3 linked regions of the Homo sapiens genome follow. The protein of the gene in region 1 interacts with the protein of each later gene in a pairwise test. Each region holds a gene or a part of one and is shown in the gene's direction. Other genes may lie near its edges. The genes, in order: DPH3, ZNF438 and SERGEF.

Region 1 (7,813 bases):
TATCAAGAGTCCACTATGTGGCAGGCACTGGCCTAAGCAATGGTGCTTTAGGCATGAAGAAAACAAAAACTCTCTTAGAGAGCTTGCATTCCAATAGATGAAGACAGAAAATAAATAAAAATAAATAAATCTGATGGTGATATAAGTCATATGCAGTTTATTTGGTTATACCCAAATCATATTAAAAAGCTCACTGCTTCATAACTAGTCTTTAGATAAACGATATATTTCTTCTTGTCATAGTATGTTGCAGCATCATTGCGGATAAGCATGCTACTTGCTATTTTTCTCTTTACTAAATGAAAAAAGCAGAAGGCCTCTTCAACCTCATTCAAGACCACTAAACGTAGTTTTTCTCCATTAAATGTTCTAAGTCAATAATGTTACCTTAATCCCTGAAAGAAAGAAGTTGAAACTTACCTTAGAAGTCCACGAGATTTTAGGAGTCATTAAGTATATGGTCAGCTGATTGACAGAATATTTTGGTCCTGCTATTACACTGAGACTTTTGGATGTACAGCAGTTGGAACATGGACAGCTTTTCCATGCATTAAAATTCTCACAAAGTTCCTGCAATGGCACAAACAACATATAACAATGTTTTGGGGAACTGATCAAAAGCACTATTACCTCTTAGCTGCCAAAGGAAAGGCTCATTAAAATCAGTAGGCATCACCTCACAACAAGCCCACTCTCAATTACCCCCTCTCCATCCATTCTTTCCTCCATGCTTCCATTTTTCTTTTTTGATTATTTATCTTACAGCTTATTTTGTTCATCTTCCTTGCCTGTCTTTAACACCTGCTACTTAGGATATCCACCCCAGGAAACAGCAGACCAAAGGCTAGAATGACACAGTTACATGTCATTTAAGGCCAAGTTCCCTGATAAAATTTAACCACTATATTGTTAAATATGGAAATACTGTTCTGTTCAATGTTTTAGACAACTATTGCTAAAATAAGTTGTCCTCACAATAGGATACATCATTTAATGATTATGCTGTTTGAATGGTCCCCTTCTCAACTGAACTGGAAAACAAATGTTAATTTTAAAAGTAGTTCTTCCCGGGCACAGTGGCTCATATCTGTAATCCCAGCACTTTGGGAGGATGAGGTGGGTAGATCGCCTGAGGTCAGGAGTTTGAGACCAGCCTGGTCAACATGGTGAAACCCCATCTCTACTAAAAATACAAAAAATTAGCTAGGTGTGGTGTCGGGCGCCTATAATCCCAGTTACTAAGGAGGCTGAGGCAAGAGAATCGCTTGAACCTGGGAGGCGGAGGTTGCAGTGGGCCAAGATCATGCCATTACACTCCAGCCTGGGCAACAAGAGCGAAACTCAGTCTCAAAAAAAAAAAAAAAAAAAAAAAAAAAAAAAAAGGAGTTCTCTTTAAAATCCTAAGATTTTATTTTGTGAAAGTAACCATGACCAAGAGTGCCACCTACTGGTAAATAAAGGACATTTTTATAAAATTCTGTTTAAAGTGCTTTCCAAAGCTTTATGCCAGTCCTTTAAATAAAATATAAAAAATTTAAAACCTACTAATTTTTTGAAATATGTCCGGCGGTTCCATACTGTAAGCATTTAATCAACCACAGCAGATCAATATATATCAAGTTATTTCTAAAACCATATAAAGTAGACCATCCCATCAATGTCTGTATCCTCACAGGCCTTCCCTTACCAAAAAATCTTAATTAACTTTATTTCTGAAATGCAGAAAAGTATAATAAGTGCTAAATAAAACTGACACCCATTAAATATGTAGTAAAACAAACTTCTGAAAGCAACAGATTAAATTTAACATTTAAGATTAATTATATGGTTTCAGTTCAACAGGTATACTCAGTTCATTCAACAACTACAGGGGTGCCAGGCACTATTTTAGGCCTTGGAGATATAATAAAGAACCAGACGCAAGGCCCTTGCCATCATGAAGCTTTTATTACAGTTCCAGAGACAGATAGTAGTAAACAAATAACAAGATAATTATAGATTATGATGAGTATGATAAAGGGAGTAAGAGTGATGGGGTAGGTGGGGGAAATATCAAGAAAGACATCTCTCCAGTGATGACACCTTGGCTGAGATCTGAATGATGAGGAAAAGGCGGCCAAGCAAATGTTAAAGGCAGACAACTCTGGCAGAAGGACTAGCAAGAGCAAAGGTCCAACACAGAAATAAGCCCGGCATGTTAAAGGAACCAAGGCCAGTGTGACTGGAGAGCAGTAAGCTGGTAAGAGTGAAATGAGATGAAGTCCAGCAGTCTATAGTAAGGGTAAGAATTTTATCCTAAGGGTAATGGGAAGCAACTGAAAAGTCTGAATCAATCAGGAGAAGGACAAGACCTAATTTATATTTTTAAAGGACTGCTCAAGTTGCTGTGGGAAGGATAACAGAGGGAGAGGGGCAGGAGTGGAAGCAGGAAACCCAGTTAAAAGACTCTGGTCTAAGATTATAATAAGGTAACAGCTACAGAGATGGCAGAAGTAGATGAACATGACATATATTTTGGAATTAGAGCCCCAAAACTTGCTGATACATTAGGCAGGGTGTGAGAGGACACTGACAGAGAAAAGCCAAGAATGCCTCAATAAGCATAAATGCACTGAAATTAAGTAAGTTCAAAGAACAATCATGACATCTGTCAATTTAGAATCTTAGGTGTCACTGAGGAAGAAAAAGGGCTCCTCTTGCTCCAACAGGCAAAGACACCTTAGTGGTAAACAAGTAGTATACACAGAGTATTTGACCGGAAATCAGCGGAACTGGGCTCAGGTGTGACTCCTTCCTGCTTTCTAATCTTCAGCAAGTCTCCTCTTGCCATTTTAACATTACCCACGCCACCTCACTGGATTACTGAGAGGAATAAATAAAATGTCTACCAAAGTACCTGGCAAGCAACAGTGTTACTAAAATCAATCCTAATACATTGACCCCTTCTCTTCCTTGTCAAACAACCTAGAGAGGTGGAGGTTTGGTATTGCCAATAAACAACTCCTTCTGGCCTGATATACAACAGCACTCATCAAATATAGTTTGCATTATACAATTATGACCTACTTCTTTTTTTTTTTTTTTTTTTTTTTTGAGACAGCGTCTAGCTCTGTCGCCCAGGCTGGAGTGCAGTGGCGTGATCTCAGCTCACTGCAATCTCTGCCTTCCAGGTTCAAGAGATTCTCCTGCCTCAGCCTCCTGAGTGGCTGGGATTACAGGCACACCACCACACCTGGCTAATTTGTGTATTTTTTAGTAAAGACGGGGCTTCATCATGTTGGTCAGGCTGGTCTCGTATTCCTGACCTCGTGATCCGCCCTTTTAGGAATAAATGTAAAGTTTAGTAGTCATTGTAATGTTTTCTTCAAAAGTGCACAGGGATATATTATGTATATGTGTTACGTAAATGTAAACTAAATGTTATATATCATTGCTGAACCAAGTAAAGCTCATAATTTCCGTGCAAAAGTGGAACATTACATCTAAAAAGGATCTTATATCATCTCTACTCCAATCCTTTCTTAGAAGAGGAAATAAGGCCCAAAGAATGTAAATATCCAGTTGCCAGAGGTAATCAACAACTCAAGATTCCGATCCCAGATCTTCTCTCGAAAGTGCTTTTTCACTACAATGCATTTCTTCTCTACTAAGATATTAAAATGCCTAGTAATTAAGTAAGACCCAATGTAATCGGTTTTACCAAAACAGGCACTAGCACTGCTTTCAAGACAAAAATGCCTTTTATCTGCATTTCGCTTCAAGGCATACATAGGCCTCACACTGATAAACCTGCCTACTGACACCATTTCTTTCACAACGAAAAAACTGGTACTCACATAAGTAATTTGTTCCTGGGCTTTGGAGACAGACAAGCTCTTCATTATTTCCCAGGTGTATGATTTTAGTCAAGATGCCCAACTCTCTGTACCTCAGTTTAAAGATTAATAAAATGGAATAACATGTAAACTCCTAGAGTTGACAATTCCACTTAGTGCAATAGCTGGCACATAACTTCCCAATAATAAAAGGTGATGTTATTACTATTACTAAAAATCATCGTCGTTAATAATGTTATAAGCCTGGCAAACAGAAGACTAGAACTCAATCCCTGCCTTCCAGGGCTTGGTCCTTTCAGCAACACAATTTAGGGTATTTTAAGGCGTCTGGGGTGAGGAAGAAGCGGAATGTACCTGCAGCCAGGAATTAACAAGCTGACCGTCGCCCTGGGCTCAAGGTCACTCGGTGAAGCGAAATTCTACGGGAACTGTTCGTCCGTCACCAGGAAGGGAGGTCGAGGAGGCTAAGCTGCTCTCGCCTCCCCACCCCGCCTTTCCCGAGGGCCGGGAGGCTGCTACCTAGCACCTGCTGCAGCCTTCAGCGGGCTATTTAAGGCGTTAAAGCAGACGATAAGAAGCAGGGAAACTTTCCCCGCTGGCACCTAGCTTGCAGACCCGGCCACGTTTAGTTGCAGGCGCCTGGAATACTCCGCGGTCCCAGACGTGACGTAGCAGCGCGGGCGAGCCCCACATTCTATTGGTCGCTGCCGCCCAATAGGAGGAGCGGTGCGCGACCCCGCTGAGCAAGCTTTCAGTCTTCCCAGTGTCTCCGCCCCTAGTTCAGCCATCTCCATGGTGACCGCTACCGGTTATCCATTTGGCCGCGCAGGGCGGAGTTGCGTCATTGCCTATGCGCCGGAAGGGCTAGTCCTTGCCCGGCGCGACCTGATGATGCCGAGCCCAGGCCGGTTCCGGCGAAGTTAAACCCTCGGAGCTGGCCTCGGACTGCTGGGGCGTTACCCCTTCGGCCACCCCCGCTGACCATGGCAGTGTTTCATGACGAGGTGGAAATCGAGGACTTCCAATATGACGAGGACTCGGAGACGTATTTCTATCCCTGCCCATGTGGAGATAACTTCTCCATCACCAAGGTAACTTCAGGGTCCCGCCCGGCGGTTCACCCAAGCAAGCGCAGTTTGGTTCCGCCCGTTCCTTCCATCATTGGGTAGCCTTTGCTGCGCTGTGTCACCCACGCCCTCTTTCCCGTTGCTGAATCTTCCTCCTCCCGCGTCCCCCCACCCCAACTAATGCCCTGAGCTCTCTCGGTAGGCACGCAGTTCTGGCCTTAGATTAGGTCAGGGAGAGGGTGGCGGAGAGCCTCTGTCTCTCTGCCCGATCCCTGCCTTAGGGTCCCAACCTGGGATATTTCTGTCGAGGAGGGGACTCGTTTTTTGTTTCCCAGGGCTTTTGGGGCGACCGAAGCTCGCCTGACCTTCCTAGGTGTTTCCCCTAAGTGACGCTTCTAGGGGAAAATGATGTCGGCATTTCTCGCTGAAGGCCCTGGGGTTCTCACCCACCTTGGGGGGAAGGCAAGCCACCAAGAGACTTGCATCTAGGGGTGGGATAGGTTTGGGGGAGGAGATGGCGAAGAGAAGCTATCCTGACCACATGGTATTTGATTTCGTTGTAGGAAGATTTGGAGAATGGGGAAGACGTGGCAACGTGTCCTAGCTGCTCTCTCATTATAAAAGTGATTTATGACAAAGTAAGGGATATAATTTTAAAACGGGGGAAGGGTATTGTAAGTCAGTGGCAAGGACTTAGATCAGCTTGTCAGTGATGAGTGCAGGAGAATGTTTCATTGTGCTAGGTAAAGTGCGGTATTTTTTTAGGCAGGTTTTAAACACCATTGATAAACAGCCGAATAGTAAATTAAAACGTTTAAAGTTCAGATTACGTAATTTATTTTAGCTTTAGAGATAAATCTAGCTTTAGTGAAAATTATTATTTATTAAATAGAAAGTATATAGATTATTTTAGTGGACAATTTTTTATATTTCTCTTCTATTTAATATGTAATTAAAATTGTTTAGAGCTGCTAGACTTACTTTGAAGGGAACAATTGTATGGTATTTCGTGCTGGCTTATACACAGAATTCTGCATTATCTTGTTTGAGATATAATTCCTAGGTGCAGCTTTACAATTTCATTTTAGTCTTTAGTTGCCCTATTATCTTTCACCCAAGGATGTTGACAATAGAAAAAAAAAATGTTATTACTGCCCACTCCTACCCAAAGTTTTGTTCAGTACTTGGAATGGAATCTTAGGTAAGGACCTTAACACTCTCAAGGATGAAGTCCAAAATGAATATAGGGAAAGTGGGGATGAGGCACAGAGCCTCATGAGAGAAGCGGGCTATAATTTAGACTATAATTTAGAAATATAATGATTCATTCTTGTATTAAAATGTGCTCTGCAACAGAAAGCAAACGGTAAGGAAGATCAGGAGTGCTGGTCTGGGAGGAAGTTGCAGTTTTCCATAGGGTGATCATGGCAGGCCTTACTGAGAAAGGCCTTAATAGGTAAAGATTTGAAGGAGGTGAGGGAGTGAGCCATGTACATATGAGGGTATGAGGTAAGAGAGTCGAGCAAAGGATCGTTCAGTGAAGGGGACCTAAGACAGGAACATGCCTGATTTTATCAAGGAACAAAAAGGAGGCCAGTGTGACCAGAGCAGAGCAGGATGAGAGTAGCGTAAGAAGTTGTGGATCACTTTAAGGACTTAGGCTCTTGTTGTGAGTGATATAGGGAACCATTGGGGGATTTTTGAACATAGGAGTGCTATGATCCAACTTAAGTTTTTTAAAAAATGATTCTGGCTGCTGTGTTCAGAGTAGCCTATAGAGAGCAAGCATAGAAACAGGAAAACCAGTGTAATAGGAGGCTATTACACTAATTAAAGAAGGAGATGGGTGGCTTGGACCTGGTTACAGCAATGGAAATAATGAGAAGTACTTAGATTCTGGATACGCTTTGAATAACTGATTGGATATAGGGTGTGAAGGAGTGAGACAAGGATGATTTCAATATTTGTGACCTTAATAACTGGGAGGATGGAGTTACTGTCAATTGAGGGAATGTAACTATAGGTATAGGGGTTGAAATTGTACATACTAAGTGAGAGGTCTGTCATCCAAGTTGAGCTGTTGAGAAGGCAATTGGATATGCATGTCTGGCGTTCATGAGAGAGATTGGCTAGCAATGTCAATTTGGGAGTTATCAGTAACAGATAGCATTTAGAGCCATGAGATTGGATGAGACCACCAGGTCTGTGAATGTAGAGATGGATAAAATACAGGACTGAGCCTTAAGGCACTACAGTATTAAAAAGTCAGGGAGGGAAGCGAGGAATCACCAAAGCTGATGGTAAAGGAGAAACCACTGAGAAAGGAGGAAAATCAGCAGTGTCAAATCCTGGAAACCAGATGAGAAAGGATTGAGGAAGTGGTGATCCTTGTCACGTGACACTGATAGGAAGCAATCAAGAATTAACCATTAGCTTTAGCAACACTGAGTTCATCTGTGACGGAGATGAGAGCAGTTTCCATGGAGTAACAGGAACAGCGCATGAGTGAAGAAACCAATGGGCAGAATACTGGTTGGAGAGAATGAGAGAACAGAAGGCAGTGAGTATAGGCATTTCTTTTAAGGAGTTTGCTGCAAAGGAGAGCACAGACATGGGACAGTAACCAGTGGTGATAGAGGATCAAGAGAGGGTTTAAGGTGGTAGAAATTCAGCCTTCATTAGTGAATATAGACATGGAAAGTTAGATTTAACCAGGTTTAAGGTTTTCCCAAGTGAATAGTAAGGAGTGAGAGAAGAGTGGTTATAACTGACCATGGAGTTTGAACTAGGTAAAGAGAACATGAAGGGAGTGAGGGGCAGTGAAAGGGTGGTAGGATGAATATGGTGGAGGTCCAGAGGGGTTGGAATATGGCATCCAGGGTGGATAAATGACAGCAACAGAGAAGAATA
Region 2 (7,109 bases), on another chromosome or scaffold:
AGTACAGTGGCATGATCTCAGCTCACTGCAACCTCCACCTCCCAGGTTTAAGCAGTTCCCCTGCCTCAGCCTCCCAAGTAGCTGGGATTACAGGCACTTGCCACCACACTCGGCTAATTTTTGTATTTTTAGTAGAAACGGTTTCACCATGTTGACCAGGCTGGTCTCAAACTCCTGACCTCAAGTGATCTGCCTGCCTTAGCCTCCCAAAGTGCTGGGATTACAGGCATATGCCACCATGCCTGGCCATAAATGGAGCATATGTTCTAGAGAAAATGAAACAGGAAGAGGGAGCAGGGAGTTCACAATGGGATATAGTTTTAAATAAGGTCATCAGAGGAGATGCTCGTTGAGAAGAAGCCATTTGTGCAAAACCTTGAAGGAAACGATGCAGCAAGTACTGGGGATTTACTGAGGGAAGAGTGTCTTGGGTGGGCGGGAGTAGCCAATGCTCCTCCCAGCCAGGAGCCTCCTCTCAGGAGGTGCATGCCCAGAACAGCAAAGAGGCCACCATGGCTGGAGTGGAGCAAGTAGAGGAAATATGTCAAAGAGGCTCCTGAGAACCTTTTTAAGCATGAGGCCTTTTAAGCCATTGCAGGGATTTTGGCTTTACTCTGAGATGAAGAGCCATTGGACAGATTTGAGATGAGGAAGTCATAGATCTTGTGCTATGATGTGTTATTGTCACATATTCTTTCAAGAGGGTGAATTACTAAGCCTTTGTTCTAGCTCATCTTGCGGTAAATATTTTCTGCCCAGTTAGGAGGAAGAACTAGTGATAAATGACCCAATATTTTCTCTTCTCTTCCTTCCACACCCCAGATCTGTTGTGTAAATGCAAAGAACATTATTACTGTTAATGTAATTATTTATTAAGCCACATCTCTAAGTAACCAAAAGCCATCAATAATTTTAGGCTTTCTGCAAAGTCTCTCAATCCTGATTTAAAGTGTTTATTTATGACTTATTTTGGTACTTCTTCCAAAAAAAAAAAGATGAGAAGGTGAGGTTTAAAATGAAAAACATTTAAATTTAAAGGCTATGAAAATAAAACTTAAAAATTAAAATTATGTAGGAAGAAGTAGCAATCCATACAGATGACTATTGTCAAGTGATTTACCACTCAATTTACCCATAAGCGGAATTCACGGTAACCAAACTCAGAAGGAAAACAACAAATAACATAATTATCTTTGTCTGATTTTTCCAGACAATAGCACTCACTAGTCCTTGTACTTCTTACTCTCGTGCAGGCTATCCTGTGAACTTATGTTTCATAATGTCCTTTTTCTTTGCAAAACAATTACTTTCTAAAAATAAACTGGTCAATATAAATTTCACCTTATTTCTACTAGGTTGCTTGTTTATTTAGGCGGTGTCATTTCTGCTGAAAGAATCAACTTCCTGCTAAAATTGTTAATTCACTCACTGTAGGCATTAAAATCAAGGTTGACGGGCCGGGCGCGGTGGCTCATGCCTGTAATCCCAGCACTTTGGGAGGCCGAGGCGGGCAGATCACCTGAGGTCGGGAGTTCGAGACCAGCCTGACCAACATGGAGAAACCCTGTCTCTACTAAAAATACAAAATTAGCTGGGTGTGGTGGCACATGCCTGTAATCCCAGTTACTTGGGAGGTTGAGGCAGGAGAATCACTTGAACCCAGGAGGCAGAGGTTGCTGTGAGCCGAGATCGCACCATTGCACTCACCTAAGCAATAAGAGCAAAACTCCGTCTCAAAAAAAAAAAAGAAAAAAGAAAATCAAGGTTGATGTTACATTTTCTTTTCTTTTTTTTTTGAGACGGAGTCTCGCTCAGACTGTTGCCCAGGCTGGAGTATAGTGGTGCGATCTCGGCTCACTACAACCTCTGCCTCCAGGGTTCAAGTGATTCTCCTGCCTCAGCCTCGCCAGTAGCTGAGATTACAGGCATCTGCCACCATGCCTGGCTAATTTTTTTTTTGTATTTTTAGTAGAGACAGAGTTTCATCACGTGGCCAGGTTGGTTTCAAGCTCCTGACCTCAAGTGATCCGCCCATCTCAGCCTCCCAAAGTGCTAGGATTATAGACGTGAGCCCCCGTGCCCAGCTGATTTTACATTTTCAATTGTCTGTTTCACTAGATTGTCTGCTACCTACCTTGTATCCTCTAACAGATAGTGTTCAGTCCCCTACCCCCAACTCTAAAATCTAAAAAACTCTGAAAACAGAAGTTTATGAAAAGTTGTTACAAACTCATTCAGAAGCAAAAACTTGAACTGAAATAAAGACAATTTAAAAATCTTCATTTGTCCAACTTGCGAATATTTGCATGTTTTGCTACAGAAGTGGTAATAGGTTCAATTATGGGTGCCCTGCAGATTCCGCTGGGAGTTATGTAACATTTAGTACACGCATCTTACTACTTTTCCAAAATTTGAAAATATAAATTCCAAACCACATCTTCCTCCAAAAATTTCAGAAAAGGGATTGTGGACTTGGCAATAGCCAATCCTGGGATAATGATTGGAATAATGTAGGTGCCTAGTAAATGTGAATTGAAGTTTGATTAATATGAGATACTTAGAAATTAGAAACATTTCTGCAGCCAGGTCTTGTGACCTTGAGACCTCAGAGAATAAAATAGATAATTCAGTCTTTAGAAGCAGGACACCAAAATGTTTCCTTAATTGTTCTCTTAAGGTAGTAGTAATTGATCTTAGGTCAGGCTAATAAATCCAGAAAGAATGAAGTGTTACCCTATCAGTCAAAATTGTTCCTATTAGTATCCTAGAAGGTGCTTTTTATGCCATTCACATATTTTGCATGTTGTCTCTGTATCTGTACTTATCACTTTGTATCTTTCTGTTTTTTGTTCAACATTTTTTAAAGGTGTCACATCAGCTTTTTTAATACTGGTGATTTAATTGCAAAAGCACACATAAACAGTTTGAAAGGTGTGAGAAGAAATTCGTAAGTCACATGGGGAAACAGCAACAAAGCTAGCATTCAGTCTGGAATGCATCCACTGTGCAAAACAAATTCAACTGCCAGTGGGTCAAATGGTGTATCCTGAGATTGAGTGAAAAATGAGTTTGATACAAGAAGCGCTTGTTTTATACAAAGGATACAGTGGGAAATATCAAGATGAGATGAATATAGGCTGTACCCTCACAAAGCTGAAGCTTAATAGGGAAAGCAGAACATGTATATAAAATAATAAACTACATAGCAGAACATACCAGACATCATGTGAAGATGAGTGGGGATAGGTTAAATGGAGAGGATGGACTTGCAGAATACATGGATGAGAAGGACGGAATTTTCGCTGTCAAGCAGTGTTGACTAGTAGAGATACACATAAACACATAAATTATTATGGAAAATGGTAAATAACATAATAGGAGCTAAGGAACCATAGATAAGTATAGAAATCCTTGGGGAAGGTAGGCAGGAATTGATCTTCAAGCTGGTCTTGAGGGACACAAGATTTTGCCCAGAAGGCTTGGAGGTAGGTCAAGGAATCTGTTCTGGGCAGAGTAAATAAGATGCTTGTTGTTTGAAGTATCACTAACAGAACAGTTACATACAGTAACTCTTTATATTTTATTGTCATTGCAGGTGAATCAAACATCCCTTCTGGAACAATACAGAGTAGGAAAGGTTTGCAGAATAAGAGTCAGTTTAGGACCATTGCACCAAAAATTGTGCCCAAAGTCCTAACGTCCAGAATGCTGCCATGTCATTCACCATCACGCTCTGATCAGGTGAATCTGGGACCCTCCATCAACTCCAAGCTGCTGGGGATGTCCACCCAGAACTATGCCCTGATGCAGGTTGCTGGCCAGGAGGGGACATTTTCTCTTGTTGCTCTGCCACATGTTGCCTCAGCTCAGCCAATTCAGAAACCCAGAATGTCCCTACCTGAAAACCTGAAACTTCCTATTCCTAGATATCAACCCCCTAGAAATAGCAAAGCATCAAGAAAGAAACCCATCCTGATCTTTCCTAAGAGTGGCTGTAGCAAAGCTCCTGCCCAAACCCAAATGTGTCCTCAGATGTCCCCTTCCCCACCTCACCACCCTGAACTCCTGTACAAACCCAGTCCATTTGAGGAAGTACCATCACTAGAGCAAGCCCCAGCCAGCATTAGCACAGCTGCGCTGACCAATGGAAGTGACCATGGGGACTTGAGACCACCAGTGACCAACACCCATGGCAGTCTGAACCCTCCTGCTACCCCAGCATCATCCACACCAGAGGAGCCTGCCAAGCAGGACCTCACAGCTCTTTCAGGGAAAGCACACTTTGTAAGCAAGATAACATCTAGTAAACCTTCTGCTGTTGCCAGTGAAAAATTTAAAGAACAAGTTGATCTTGCAAAAACCATGACCAATTTATCACCAACCATTCTTGGCAATGCAGTTCAGTTGATCTCTTCAGTCCCCAAAGGGAAACTGCCAATCCCACCCTACTCAAGAATGAAGACAATGGAGGTTTACAAAATCAAATCAGATGCTAACATTGCAGGTTTTTCTTTACCAGGACCTAAGGCCGACTGTGATAAGATACCCTCCACCACAGAAGGCTTTAATGCAGCCACCAAGGTGGCAAGCAGGCTACCTGTTCCACAAGTGTCACAGCAGAGTGCCTGTGAAAGTGCCTTTTGTCCACCCACCAAACTTGATCTTAACCACAAAACAAAACTGAACAGTGGAGCAGCAAAGAGAAAAGGAAGAAAACGGAAGGTACCAGATGAAATTTTGGCATTTCAGGGAAAAAGGAGGAAATATATCATTAATAAGTGTAGAGATGGTAAAGAAAGAGTAAAAAATGATCCCCAAGAATTCAGAGACCAAAAGCTGGGGACCCTGAAAAAATACCGTAGCATTATGCCCAAACCTATCATGGTCATACCCACTTTGGCCTCCCTGGCTTCTCCAACTACACTACAGTCCCAGATGCTTGGGGGCCTAGGACAGGATGTTTTGTTAAATAATTCACTCACTCCTAAATATCTTGGCTGTAAGCAAGACAACAGCTCTTCCCCTAAGCCCAGCTCCGTGTTCAGAAATGGATTCTCTGGCATTAAGAAGCCTTGGCACAGATGTCACGTCTGCAACCACCACTTCCAGTTCAAACAGCACCTTCGAGACCACATGAATACACACACCAACAGACGCCCTTACAGTTGTCGGATTTGTCGCAAGTCCTATGTACGTCCTGGCAGCCTGAGCACACACATGAAACTTCATCATGGTGAGAACCGTCTGAAGAAACTCATGTGTTGTGAGTTTTGTGCAAAAGTGTTTGGCCACATCCGAGTCTATTTTGGCCATCTGAAAGAAGTGCATAGGGTTGTGATCAGCACTGAGCCTGCGCCCAGTGAACTGCAGCCAGGAGACATACCAAAGAACAGAGACATGAGTGTGCGAGGCATGGAGGGATCATTGGAGAGGTGAGTGCCAATGTAATGGAGACCTGGCAAGAGAGTCTGTTTTGATTTGGGGAAGAGGGGAAGATTTCATATTCAGAAAGGAGAGTTTATAAAACATCTCTAGGATTAAGATTTCATAAAGTAGCTATGTATACCTCCTAGATCTGTGAAGAATGATCTTGTTTCTCTCTGGTTTCTGATCATCCATACTTGGAATTACCCTAACCAATCTAGTAAAGTACTGTATATAGTTCCAGTGGTCTTTACAAGTAATTTCCCCCAAAATCACATCCACAGAATTTGCGTTATTTTAAACAGCATCATTTGCCCCAAAATGCGGCATGACCCATGGTTGGGGACTCAGAGTGGGTGGGTCTGTCATGTTGACCCTACCTTAAGGTGCCCAGACCCCACCCTCTTCATTTGCCCTGTTTTTCCCATCAGTTCGGGTTCACTCTTTCTGGTGTCATTCCTTTTTGCAAGCACTGCTTCCTGGTATTATTGCTATGGGATCCTTGGGGTGTCATTTCACCAGCCGGAAACCTCTGTGGCCAGTGGCGCCTTGGCCTGAGTTTTGCTCTGGCCCATTAGGCTCGTTCCACCCACTTGGAACCTAGCAGGCTGCACTCAGCTCATGCTACCGGCCTAGATCCCATGCCTGCCAAGGGCGAGCCAGGCACAGAGTGGTGAGGGATGTGTGAGTGAGCGTGGGGTCTGGCCACTGCGCATAGGCAGGCACGCCGGCTGCTGCTGCAGGCCAGGCAGCTCCAGGTGCCACCTCCTTGCAAGGCTGTGGCTGGACCAGGCACATCACAAGCAGCTTCCACGGTTGGCACCAGGAACATGATGTTGCCCAGAAGCTTGGAGACTAGGGAGTCACTGCCCTGGCTCAGGGGGCTCCCAGGACAGAGCTCCCCAAAGGGCCGCAGCTCTTCTCTTCACCTGCTGTGTGGCAAGCAAGAGGCGTGTTTCAGCCTGTTTGTGTTACAGCTCTCTTAGCCCCACCATTTGGCAGGTCTCAAGTTCTTGTCCTGCGTTCAGGAAGAATGAGGTACACAGAGAAGTAGAGGGTGAGCAAGATGAAGAGGAGCTTTATTGAGTGATAGAACAGCTCAGAGTTGAACTGCAGGGGGCAGTTCCTCTCTGCAGGCAGGTTTTCCCCGTCATCTCTTGTGCTCTCAGCAGAGAGGGTAGCTCCTCTCTGCCACTGGTCGTCCCATTGTCTCTTCAAGTCTGGCTAAGTCCGGGGCTTTTATGTGCCTCAGAGGAGAGGAAATGCGTGCAGTTGGTCCATGGGCAGTCATGGACAGACCCAGAAAAGCACCACAAGTTCCCACTCCAGTCCACATGACTGGCAACCTGGCCCCCAGGCTTCAGGGCTTCTCTGGCTTGAAGGTGGGGCTTCACCGGGGACCTCCCCTTTTCTGCCCAGGAGCTTCTTTGCTCCCTGCTTCTGTTTATGGCACCCAGGCTGTTCATGCTGAGGGGGCACCTGCAGGCTGGCACCGAGCTGTCCTGAGCACCCCTTCCTCAGCCTCCCTTCCATGCTTATTGGCACCCAAAGTCTGGAGCAGGCCAATGGGGTAGGAGGTGGGCATATCAGCACTGCCTCAAGCGTGTGCACACCCAACCAGGTTACAGCAGAGCCCAGGCTCAGCCCCAGCCTTGCTTTGAGATTGGAGCAGGTGCTGACAGCAG
Region 3 (7,109 bases), on another chromosome or scaffold:
GGTACTTGAATAAATTATAAAGATTTCTGAAATCTTAGTAAGATTCTCTCTGCAGGTCCACAATCCCTTGTCTTCAATTCTGAATACAAAAAGCTCTGAAAACCCAAAACTTACTGGACATAAGGCCATTTATAGTCTTTGGCCACTTCTTATGAATATTTGTACTTTGTAATGCAGAAATATTATTGTTTTGCTTATGGGCTGCTGTCCCTGGACCTTGCATCAGTATATATGACATATGTACTGTATTACTTTTCTAAAAGCTGTAAAATTCTGAATCTGAAATACATCTGACTGTAAGCATTTCAGATTAGGGATTATGGACCCTTTTTGTATAATAATAATAATAATAGACATATTGCCTGTCAAGGGGAAATCTGTCCCCTTACTGGAATCTCACCATGTGAATCTTGGAGTCACATAGCACTGTACTTGGAAAGGGCTTTAGAGATCATTGCCAGCCTCTTTCACTGTACAAATGAAATAATGACGTGCCTTGCTTTAAGGCAAGAAATCCTTAGCCAGCTTTGATTCCAGAGTCATTGTTGGTTTTCCCATCATGGGTGTGGGGAGGAGAAACAAGAACTAATTCCAGGATGTTGCCCTCCCATTTTGATGCCATTTCTCTCTCATTTTTTTCTTTCCTTAGCTTCCCTAGGTAGTTAGCTTTTATCAGAAGGAACCCCTGTGCTGTCTCCAAAAGGCAGTACCTGGGGGCTGGAGCATAAGAAGGGAAAGATGAGGAATATTACTGGCTGAGTTGTGGATGCCTAGGACTCTTCTCATATCGAAATCATGGTGTTCTGAGGATGGGGCCTCCATCTAAATATGGGAGCATATAACAGCCGTTAAGAATGAGCCTAACAGGTCATTTCCTCTTTGGTCAGTTTCCCACTTGACAAAGGAAGGGTAAGATTTACATTCCCAAATGCTCCAGAGTCCTTCTGGTGAGCGAATTATTATTATTTTTCTTTTCAGATTTTGGGGAAGGGATTTGAGGAGGGAAGAAAGGAGATGGGGTAAGAGTGTTTCTAAGTCTGAAACTCTCTCTGTCCTGAGCTGTTCCCGTGGTTACTCAAGGACAAGGGGAGACAGTTTTGCCCACAGCTCCAGAGACACAGATAACAAAGGAATGACCTTCATTTTTCTTCAGGTTGGACCCTGTAGGGGTCTGTGAGCAGCTTCTCCTGGAACTTTGTTTGGATTCTGTGTCCATATTTATAATTTATTTGAAACACGCTGGATAGTGTTCTCATTTGGGGGCTGAAGTTCAGCTAGGGAAAGCAGTGAGGTGGCATGGGTGCAGGAGGAGGGGGTAAGGAGAGATACGAGATACACCTGCCAACGACTCGTAGCCCAGAACTCTCTCTAGAGAAGAGAAGCCCCTCCTCCTCAAGAGGCTGTCTTGTTCTCAGTCAGAAGAACCTTGATTTAGGAGATGGCCTCTCTTTTCCTGGCCATTCTAAGAGGAAAGGCCATTTTACCCCATTACCTCCAGAGGGTTGGGCTAGGCCAAGGACCTCATAGGACTCATGTCCCCTTCAGCCATGGCTAGCATTGCTGCTTTGCCTTCTGGGGCCTGAGGTAGAAAAAAGTGTGGTTTCTTCAGCTGCTGCAGGAGGCCAAGCAGGGCATTTGTCCTTTGCCCCAGTAAATTAAGCCTGCCAGGGTGCCTACCTAGGAACTTTCCTGGACATGAATTTCCTCCACTGTTATGGTCATGAGTCTCTTTCTAATGGGATTACAGATCAGGGGTGGGGAGACAGTGTTACCTGTTGTTTTCTGGTGCTTGTTATTATATATTTGAATAAACAGTGCTGTGAGTATTTGCCGTGAAGGAGCTAAAAATTTTTTTTTAAAAAAGAATGAGCCTAATAAATCTCATCTGTTACAGGGTCTGAGAGATACGTCAGGGTGAGAGAGACAGAGACAGGTAAATAGACATTGACAGTTGTGGTTCCCACACTTTTTCATCCTTGGCTTATTCATCCCTAGGGTGCAAATAGCTATGGGCAACTTGGCCTCGGCCATAAGGAAGATGTGCTGTTGCCCCAGCAACTGAATGACTTCTGTAAACCCAGGAGTGTCAGGAGGATCACAGGAGGAGGGGGCCACTCTGCAGTTGTCACAGGTAATTTCCTTCAAAAGTAGATAGTCACTCATTTTCTTATTTAGACGTTTTCCCCTGGATATGATATTGCCATCTTTCAGCCTTTTGTATTTTGCAGAGGAAAATAATGTATTTTTGTGAAACATTTTTGTGAAAGAGCCAAATTACCATCAGAAGATCCTAGATTTTCAGGGCTAGAAGGACTTCAGAGATCTTCTAGGCCACCCCTTTCCCCCACCCCCTCCATTATACAAATGAAACTCAGAAAGGAACACTGATTGCTTAACATCACAAGGCAAAGTAGTGGCAGAGTTACAATGTATATTTTACACCATAGGAATTAGAAGTCTTTGTAATTAGATTGGATATTCCTTGAGAGCAAAAACTGTGTGTTCCCCTTAATCTTCCCTTACTGTATCTAGGATAGCACTTAACAAGTAGTACAAGTGCTACAATGTTGTAAAGGGGGGCATATTGCATCTGGTTGAGAACATGAGCTCTGGAATCAAATCTCTGGGTTCAGATCCTGGTTCTGTGACTTATTATCTATGTGGCCTTGGGCAAATAGCCACAGTTTCTGAATCTGTTACATGAGGATAATAATGGTGGGTGAAGAGAACCAGTGAGTTAGCAGGGCTCCATTCCGACTGTCATGGGTCGTTGGTGCTTTTCCCTTTATGGACCTCTTCCTTTGTAAAGAAAAAAATTATATTTTACAACTGTGTTGGTATAAAGATGGATATTAATAGAATCCACTCCAGATTTAGTGTTATATATGCATTGTTACTATATTATCTTTTTCTCATTTAAAAATAACTAAAAATTAAGCCACTCTGTGGGCCTCTGAAAGCATTGTGGGCCCTAGACACTGTGCCTAAAGGATAAGTCCGCTCTGCACAAAAAGCTCTTAAAACAGTACCTGGCACGTTCTCAATGTTGAATAAATGTTGTTGGCTTTTTGTTCCAGTAGATGCTCAGTTTGGTGATTGATTGACCACTGCGCCAAGACTTGAAGTTTCTCTGTAGGTATTAGTTTGAGGCCCTTGGCCTTGTGTTGTTTGGCTCCAGAATACATGAACATACACAGCTTATTAACTTGGATGGCAAAAAAAGTTATTGGTCTGAGAGTCCAAATAATTAGTGAAATCTTTTTGTTCATTTTGCAGTTGTGTTTTTTCCTGTGCACGCTATCACTGATGCCTTTATATTTTGCAGATGGAGGAGACCTCTTTGTTTGTGGCCTGAACAAAGATGGGCAACTGGGGCTTGGTCACACAGAGGATATCCCATATTTTACCCCCTGCAAATCCCTCTTTGGCTGTCCCATCCAACAGGTGGCCTGTGGCTGGGATTTTACGATTATGCTCACAGGTGAGTTCACTCCTAGGTAGATTTTTGTCACCACAAAGGCTTTGGGTGAGAACAGTATGATGATGGTGACTGCAGATTAAATGAAAGCCTCTTTGTGTTTAAAAAGCACACATAAGGCCTGGTGCGGTGGCTCACAATTGTAATTCCAGCACTTTGGGAGGCCAAGGCAGGTGTATCACTTGAGGTCAGGAGTTCGAGACCACCCTGGCCAACATGGTAAAACCCCGTCTCTACTAAAAATACAAAAATTAGCCAGGCGTGGTACCCCATGCCTATAGTCCCAGCTACTCTGTAGTCCCAGCTATTTGGGAGGCCGAGGCAGGCGAATCACTTGATCCTGGGAGGTGGAGGTTGCAGTGAACTGAGATTGCGCCACTGCACCCCAGCCTGAGCAACAGAGCAATAATCCATCTCAGAATAAATAAAAATAAATAAAAAGCACACACAAATTTTCCCTCTGGTTGTCAAGGAAAGTTGTGGACTACCTTTTCTAAGGAGAGTTTAACGGTAAAGGAGACTGGGATTGGGGTGGAAAACTTTTGTCAGAGAGTAGGGAATAGACTAGATCACCTTTGGTGGCCACTTCCTGTCCCAAAAGTTCATGATAGCTGTGTGCTTGGGGTAGCTGGCCAGTGGCCAGCAGTGGCAGCAGAGGGTTACTTACAGGGAATGTGGTAGGAGAATATGAGGCAATAGTGGTTGCCAAAGCAGTGATGGCAGCTTTTTCACACTGTGGGATTTTTTTTTTTCTAAATGTGTTAGGCAGATCTGTTTGGTCTTTGTGAAGCCAGGTAGCAGGATAGGATATGGCCAGAGGGTTATTAGAGTAATGCACTTGGGAACAGCCAGCAGTAGTTACCTTGTCAGCTGACGTCTGTTCCCTTGAAGCAGTTTTGACCTCTCTGTTCAGCTTTGCTCTGTCTAGCTGGCCATTCTGGATTTAAAGGACCATCTGTGGTTTCTGACCAGGCTCCCTCTTTGCCACGGTCCTTTGGCAAGGGCATCTTCTGTCACTCTCCTGTCATAAACCCTTGTGGATTCTCCCAGACATAGCTCAGATTCCTAGCTTTTTAGCGTTGGCCTTCTGTAACTGTTCCCTAGCTATCTTTGTGCTGTGTCTCTTATTCTCCACACTCCTCATACTTTTCTTTCTGGTCATACCAAGCAGTATATGTTCTTCTGTCTGTCTGGACCAGCCCCTCTTGTCTATCTGATGGACTCGAATCCCAGCTTTAAAACCCTGCTCAAGTGTCACCATCCTCCTCTGTGGAGGGGTTCTGTAATATGTGTTGAATTTGATGGTGATTATTAGAATCTAAACAATAACTATCATTTATAAGGTGTTTATTGTGAGCCTATGTTTTGGATTGTAAGGAGTCAGTAGATAATGCTCTTTCCTGCTCACATTTGGAGCCAGTTGTGAGAAAAGCACAGAGAAGTCAGTATTGGAGATTAAAAACTATTGGCTTTTCACTGGTAAAGGCTAAATTGGAGGACAGTATTAATTATGAGGCCAGTGGTCCTAATATTCTTCTGGTCCAAACTTACCCCCAAATCTCTAGGCTTTCCCCACAGGGAAATGCTTCCTATGTGTCAGCCTAGAATGACTGAGAGGGAGGTGCCAAGCCACACATGTCCTGTCCCATCTCCTAAACTCACCAGTTGGTTACATGACCGCTGTCCCCTAGAAAGCAGTGAGGATGGGGAAGGGCAGGGAGAAAAGCTGGAGTGTTGTTTTACTAATGGAAATTTTGTCACATGGAAACATGAAAAATGAAAAATTACTATCCTCCCATCCCAATACGAGGCACTGAGTTAAGTGTTCTACACAGATAATCTGTTATTAATGAGAGAATAGAATAGACAATCTGTGTAGAGTGCTTAACCTGGTGCCCAGTGTTTTCATTCCTAGAGGAATAAAAGCAGGGAATATGGTCTGAATGCACTGAAGCACTTCCCCTCATCCCCTTTGCATCTCTCACCCTGCAGCATTTACCCATTGGTCACAGACATCTTACTTCATAGATTTGCAATTTAAGTATTTGTATTTTGCAGAAAATGGTCAAGTTCTATCATGTGGATCCAACTCCTTTGGCCAGTTAGGAGTTCCTCATGGACCTCGAAGATGTGTGGTTCCCCAGGCCATTGAGGTGAGGACAGTTAATATTTAGCTTGCCCATGACCTGTTAAAGTGTTTCCAAGGTATTAACCTATCTCTCCCCAGAATAAAAGGCTGTCAGGATCCCTGAGAACCCATGGAGTAGGAGAATTTGAGTTGAAAAATAGGTCCTTCTGGGAAAAATTAAGTTGGGAGGTAAACGTTGTGAATGAAAACCTCTGTTAGTTTTCATACACTTCATATGAAGTTTTGTGAAATAAAACAATAAGAGTAATACATCTCATAAGGATATTGATGACATTTTACAGTTCTAAAATTAGTAATAATGGAAATTATGTTAGAAATAGGTCCAGATAGAAGTGATTTGTCGAAAGACACTAAGCTAGGCAAATGGTATAGGCCAGTGCTAGCCAGTAGAAATATAATGTGAGCCATATGTAATTTAAAATTTTCTAGTAGCCCTATTTAAAAAAGAAACAGGTGAAAGTAATTTTTAAAATAACAGCATTATTGAGCTGTAATTCACATACCATAAAATTAACCCCTTTAAAATGTATATCCACAGAGATGAGCAACCAATATCATTATCTTATTTTAGAACATTTTCATTACCACCAAAAGAAACTATGTACTTAATAGCAGTCAATTCCTATTCTCCCTTCCCCTCAGCCCCTGGTGAGTACTAATCTACTTTTTGTCTCTATAGATTTGCCTGTTATTTCAGCATGTCATCAGTATAAAGTTATTTTTTGTTTTTATTTTTATTTTTGAGATGGAGTCTCACTCTGTTGCCCAGGCTGGAGTGCAGTGGCGCGATCCCGGCTCACTGCAACCTCCGCCTCCCAGGTTCAAGCAGTTCCCTGCCTCGGCCTCCCGAGTAGCTGGGATTACAGGTGCCTGGCACCATTCCCAGCTAATTCAGTATAAAAATTATTAACAAGGTATTTTATACTGATTTTGTACTAAGTCTTTGAACTCTGGTATGCATTTTTTACTTACAATATGTCTCAGTTTAGTGTAATCACATTTCAAGTTTTCAAGAGCTATGTGTAGGTAGTGGCTACCATATTGGACAAAACAAGTGTTAAACAGGACTCTTGGCTCTAGTTCAGAGCTCTTTACTTCAGTGCATCATACTTAAAATCACCCCTTTTTGTGAAGTTTATATTGTAAGTGATCATAATAGGAATATAGAATTTTTAAAGAAATATGCTTGAATCAAAAATGAGTTTTACCACCTAAGCTGTCCCACTCCGATCTAATTTCCCTAAACTCTGATTAATAGTGGGAGATGTTTTTTCCCTAGAGAAAGCTTGGGTCTGCCCCTGCCAGCTTGCTGAACTCAGTTGTTGGTCTGTGGACTGTTATTTCGGGTCATGGTTCCCATGGTATGCACAAAGTCTAGGCTCTGTAGTCCCTGAAGGAAGTATTATAGCTCCCAATTGCAAATAGATGGCCTTGTAAGCACCTACATATAAGTTATAATTAATTTAGCTTAATTATACTTTA

What was found.
Region 2: the proteins of DPH3 (region 1) and ZNF438 interact in binary tests that used the Homo sapiens proteins (3 or more experiments, as listed by UniProt).
Region 3: the proteins of DPH3 (region 1) and SERGEF interact in binary tests that used the Homo sapiens proteins (3 or more experiments, as listed by UniProt).

The regions. Positions count from the first base shown.
Region 1 is NC_000003.12:16,261,883-16,269,695, reverse strand, and holds the start of DPH3 (diphthamide biosynthesis protein 3), read left to right. Parts: upstream 1-4,752; 5' UTR 4,753-4,819; coding exon 4,820-4,927; intron 4,928-5,466; coding exon 5,467-5,541; intron 5,542-7,813. Other genes in the region: OXNAD1 (oxidoreductase NAD-binding domain-containing protein 1), read right to left, coding at 421-570, 3,837-3,881.
Region 2 is NC_000010.11:30,846,854-30,853,962, reverse strand, and holds part of ZNF438 (zinc finger protein 438), read left to right. Parts: intron 1-3,595; coding exon 3,596-5,432; intron 5,433-7,109. UniProt on the Homo sapiens protein: Isoform 1 acts as a transcriptional repressor.
Region 3 is NC_000011.10:18,002,963-18,010,071, reverse strand, and holds part of SERGEF (secretion-regulating guanine nucleotide exchange factor), read left to right. Parts: intron 1-1,995; coding exon 1,996-2,131; intron 2,132-3,325; coding exon 3,326-3,481; intron 3,482-5,536; coding exon 5,537-5,631; intron 5,632-7,109. UniProt on the Homo sapiens protein: Probable guanine nucleotide exchange factor (GEF), which may be involved in the secretion process.